Linked DNA regions of Homo sapiens: region 2 is linked to region 1. The links come from fine-mapping of genetic effects on gene expression. Tissue or cell type: whole blood. Region 1 holds a variant in brackets; the other region holds the start of a gene. All regions are shown on one strand. Distances are from middle to middle.

Region 1 (2,753 bases):
TGCTCCTCTCCAGGCTCTCTGCTGTGGCCCAGGATCCTAAAGGCGGCTGAGGAGAGAAGCAGTGCAGAGCCCGCAGCCTCAGTCCTGTTCTGGAGGACTGTCCCCAGCCCTGCTGGTGCTGCCTCTCTTCCTTTTCCTCATCCCCCAAAATAAAGACCTTTAGCCCCTCTCCTTCCCTCTGAAATTCCACTGGGCTTTCTTTTATTTATTTTATTTTATTTTTTTTTGAGATAGGGTCTTACTCTGTCACTCGGGCTGGAGTGCAGTGGCACGATCTCTCGGCTCACTGCAACCTCCGCCTCCCAGGTTCAAGTGAATCTCCTGCCTCAGCCTCCCAAGTAGCTGGGATTACAGGCATGCACCACCATGCCCAGCTAATTTTTGTATTTTTAGTAGAGACAGAGTTTCGCCATGTTGACCAGGCTGGTTTTGAACTCCTGACCTCAGGTGATCCACCTGCCTCAGCCTCCCAAAGTGCTGGGATTACAATGAGCCAACTTGCCCAGCCCACTGGGCTTTCTTTTTCCCTTCCATAAAGGAATTAAGTCTCAGTTTAGGCAGCTTTACTAAAAATGGACACAGACAGACAGAAATATCAGGTGTAGGAGCATCTTATTAAATAATGCCGAGAGAGAAAGGAACAAAATTACACGTGTCTCCTTTCATCCCCCCACCCCCTCCTGGCCTTGAATGGTTTAATATCGAACACTGTTATCAATATAATTAACTTCCTAAGACACAATTCTAAAGTCCTGTTTTTTTAAAAGCGATTTACATTCTCTGAAGTTCAGGACATCCCGCCGCCTGGCACCAGCGCCACCCAGCCGGCCTATGTGGTTAGGTGCATTTATAGTGGATTTGCATACCTGTCTGCAATTACCGCCAGTGATAACAGCTGATGCATAATGCATGCAGCATGAAATTAGAAAAATAATTAACTTTAGGTTTTAAAAGAATTCCCGCCCCAGCCCCCATGCATCACAAGTTCTAAATGATACCAGTGGATGGGATCCAGGAGCAAAGCTGTTCAGGGTGATGGGTGTGGCTGGCTGGCACCCTGCCCTGGCGGGAGCTGGGGTTAGAAGGTCCTTGAGGGTCATGGCATCTAGTCCCTGCCCTAAGGAGATGCCTCTGGTGGGCCTGCAGTCCCTGGGGCATCTGCCTGAACTAGGGCTTGGAAAAGCCCCACTCACACGACTCAAGGCTCCCCTCCCTTCCTGCAGTTCATGTCTGGGGCTCAGGGAAGAATGGCTCATTGCTAGTAATGGTAATAGTTCCCTCATTCTGAATACGACTCTGCTAAACATTGAAAGTAACCTTATTTTATCTTCACAAAAGCCCAGGGAAGTAGATCGTTTATGGTCAGATAGACTTGAGACCCCTGTAATCCCAGCACTTTGGGAGGCCGAGGCGGGCAGATCACCTGAGGTCAGGAGTTAGTGACCAGCCTGACCAACATGGAGAAATCCCGTCTCTACTAAAAATACAAAATTAGTGGGGCGTGGTGGTGCATGCCTGTAATCACAGCTACGCGGGAGGCTGAGGCAGAAGAATCGCCTGAACCCAGGAGGCAGAGGTTGCGGTGAGCCAAGATCGTACCATTGCACTCCAGCCTGGGCAACAAGAGCGAAACTCTGTCT[C/CA]AAAAAAAAAAAAAAAAGACTTGAGACCCAGGGCCACCCCACAGTAGGCTGAGCAGCTTGGTTGAGCCAGGCAGACCACTGGCTACTTGCCTTCACAGGAAAGGGGCTTCCTGGCGAGAAGGAGGGGAGCTCTCCCTGGGTCTCCCTGAGCACCAGGAAGCAGCGGCCTGCCCTGTCTACCTCCTGGCCCTCTTCCCTCTGTCTTATTTGCAGTTGAGCCCCCAGGAAGGTGGGGTCTTTCATTAATTTAAACAAAGGTTTGCTGAAGCCCCATCACAGAGCTGGAGATGATTGTGCCTTGGTAGGGCTTCCTGTCTAGTGGGAGGTGGGACTGGGGTCCCACTGGCCTTTCCCGCTCTGGGGCTGAGAAACTGCTTCTGCCCGCAGTCTGCCTGCACGGCATTCTCAGTGAGGAATTGAAGGCATGGCAAGGTTTAGGGGAGACACATGAATTATTGCTGAAGGGAGGGACTGGCAGGGGAAAGACACCTGCAAGGGACCCCACCTGGGGGCTGGGAAGTGGGGGAAAAGCCAAAGGACCCCAGGGTCTGCAGCAACCACACACCAGTGCCAGGCCACACACCAGTGCCAGGCCACATGGGCAGCCAGATTCCTAAGGACAGAGGCAGGCAGGTGGGCAGGAAGGAGGCTGAGGGGCAAGTGGGGGTGGGGGAGACGTGACCAGCATCCATGCACGTGAGCATGTACTTGTCTTTCCTACATACAGAGTTTACATGCAGGACACTTCCTCTCCCCGCCTGGCCCTGCCTGAGATGCCCCCATCCCAGGGATGGGACAGGTGAAAGAGGAGACGTGGGAGTGAGGCCAGACAGGGATGGGGGGCTATTTCCTTGCTGGCTTCCAGAAGCTCCTGGGACATGCCTGTGAATAGAAAATAGCATCCCCAGGTTCCATGAGGGCCAGGAGCCAGCAGCAGGGTCCCCAGCAAAGGCTGAGCAGCAGACAGTGGGCCATAAGCCACCACGAGGGGTGGGGAAGAAGCTTGGTGTCACTGACTTATAAAGGCTTTGCAGTTGGGTGTAGACACCCACACTCAGCTTCCCTACTGCTCCCCCAGACCTGGGAAACCCGGGAGGCTGCCGGCCTCTCCCC
Region 2 (2,500 bases), 99 kb after region 1:
GCTCTTACCTGAGAACTTAGGGTGCTAAGCTTTAATTACACTTTTCCATGGTTGCAACAAGCTGCGTTTTCTAAAGCTCTCTTCCTGGACTGGGGAGGCCTTTGGGGCAGGAGTAAAACTTCCTCATTTGCTCCAAGAGTGCTGCTTTCTGGGCTAGGAAGGCGCTGAGACTAGCAGCTGGCTGGACTTCCTGCTGTTAGTTTCATCAGCTTTCTTTTCCCCTGGGAATCCCCGGCAGGCCGCCCCCTTCCCCATCTGAGTGGCGATGCTCAGGTAGCCTCCCCCATTGGCAGGACTCTGCCGCCCCCAGGCTTGCCCACCCTGCATGCTCCAACCCCAGTGTGTTCACTGGAAAGGCCGCTGTCCTGCGCAGAGCTGGTGGCGGACGTGCCTTGCTCTACTGAAGTCCACATCCTAGGGCAGGTGATGAGCAGGAGGGTATAGACCACCAGAGACCCCTGAGGTGTCACCTAAGCAGGGACTTGATGGGAGTGAGCCTCGTGGGGACTCGGGGAGGCTCATCCAAGTGGAGCACAGTGGAGGGGTCGTGTTTGGAGCTGGGTGACCTGAGGGCCCGGGAGGTTGTGGATGGTCTGGGCCAAGTACTGTTCACTTGTTCACCTGGCAGGTCTGAGTTCATGAGTTTGAAGGTAGCCCTACGCGGAGCTAGGAAAAACTGCAAAATGGACTTGTTTCCCTCTGGGGCCTTGAGGGATCCTTGGTTGATAGGGATAGCCAGGCTGGAGCCGATTTAACCTGTGAGTCCCAAATAACCTGGATACACTCTGTCGACTCCTGGGCTCTCCCTCCGGCAGCCCAGTGATGTTTCAAAGCCCAAGGTCCCCACCTCATGTGACAGGCTGAGGATGGCAGACACTTCCCACAAAAGTGGACCTAGCCCTGAACACACACAGCCGGGGGACTTGTTGAGTTTGCACTGAGCTTCCCTCCAAATGAGGAAGGGGGCGTTTTTATGGTGTTGAGTCGCTAAGCCCCGCTCTCCCTAGCTTCCTGTGCTCTCTGGGGACAAAGGTGGGGGGGCCCCTGGAACCCTCTGTGGGCTGGCAGTGTGCTTCCTGCACCCAGCGCCAGCCCGCCCTGGGGAGGGGCTGAACCCGCCCTGCTCGTGATAAGGCACAAGCAAGGGCTGCCCTGAAGGAAGCTCCAAAGAGAAAGGAGGGCAGGAAGCCCACGGCCCACAGGGGTGTAGCCCGAGACCCACCTGCAGCCCCCAGCCCTTGCCAGGAAAGGTAAGCTCAGGCCTCACTGGGACCCTGGGCCCTTCTCTTCCTTATCCTCCTGCAGCCTCTGCCCAGCCTGCCTCTCGCCATGCGGCAGCCTGAACTTTCCACCTCCCCGGAGAGGCTTTGGCTGGTTTGTGATGTTGGCATCTGAGCTGTGGGCCAGGATCGGAACTACTTCCTGGCCTGGGTACGAAGCCATGGCCAGAGTGGGCAGCTGCCCCTGAGGGTCTGGGAGTGAGCTGTGGGCTGGCATTGAGCACGGTGGTCCTGAGTGAGCCCCTTCTTACCCGGCCTCAGTCTGCCCGCCTGTAGGATGGGAGCGGATTGGACTACATGGTCTCTGAGGGCCCTCGCGGCTCAAGCGCCAGCGCTGGAGAGAGAGTCTGAGGGTACCACGGGCGTGCTGGCCTGGGTGCTCACTCCCGCCCTCCTTCATGAGCGGCTTTCCTCTGGGTGTGTCCAGGGCATCACAGAGCTCTTCTGCCCAAACCCGGAGGCCTACCAGGGCCTGCCCACCTTGCCTCCTTCCACACTCTCTGTAGCAGCAGCCGCAGCCATGGCGGGGATGAAGACAGCCTCCGGGGACTACATCGACTCGTCATGGGAGCTGCGGGTGTTTGTGGGAGAGGAGGACCCAGAGGCCGAGTCGGTCACCCTGCGGGTCACTGGGGAGTCGCACATCGGCGGGGTGCTCCTGAAGATTGTGGAGCAGATCAGTGAGTGTCCGCTGCCCGCTTGCTGAACTCGGCACCATGGGCGGCCGCCACGGGTGTCTCTGGGCACTTCCGGGCCATCCCTGCTGCTCAGCTCCCGATAATGGTGTCACGGTGACTCAGGCATTAGCTTAATCATTTGGTTCCAAAAAAGACATTTCCCCAACTTCCTCTCCCTCCCACCCTCTTCCCTCCCTCCCTTCTGCTGCAGCTGGTCTGCTAAGGATCAGACGCAGCCACAATCCTCCATTCAGCCACCAATAGGGGCAGAAGGAGTGGTCTTGTCTGGGCCGAGGCTGAAGTCACATTGCTGAGGTCTGAGGGGGTCTAGGTGACCCAGGGGCCTGCCCCCACGCTCCCTCCCCTTGGCGGAAGCTTTGAGCAGGTTGGTGACAGGCCCAGCCTGGGTGGGAAGGCCCTGCCCCCACAGGAAGTTACAGCAGAGCAGCTGTGGTATCAGTCATGGAGGACCACGGGGCTAGTGACACGGGGGCTCCTCATCTTCCTTCCCTGCCGGGGGTGGGGGCTACCCCTTCCTGAGAG

The links. PIP is the estimated chance that this variant, and not a neighbour inherited with it, causes the effect.
Region 2: FERMT3 starts here. The variant in region 1 is fine-mapped to the expression of FERMT3 in whole blood (INTERVAL, PIP above 0.99).

Annotation. Positions count from the first base shown.
Region 1 is chr11:64,106,673-64,109,425 of GRCh38, forward strand. The region is part of intron 3 of MACROD1 (mono-ADP ribosylhydrolase 1); the gene reads right to left. All of the region lies in intron 2 of FLRT1 (fibronectin leucine rich transmembrane protein 1), which reads left to right. Among named protein-coding and RNA genes, the nearest start is that of MACROD1, 58 kb to the right of the region's middle. The variant C/CA (reference allele first, on the strand shown) is at 1,641.
Region 2 is chr11:64,205,565-64,208,064 of GRCh38, forward strand. It overlaps FERMT3 (FERM domain containing kindlin 3), which reads left to right and starts at 1,157. Exons shown (of 15, transcript NM_031471.6): 1 at 1,157-1,250; 2 at 1,787-1,960. The coding sequence starts at 1,801. RefSeq lists enhancers at 1-328, 166-425, 329-891, 1,326-1,405, 1,726-1,805.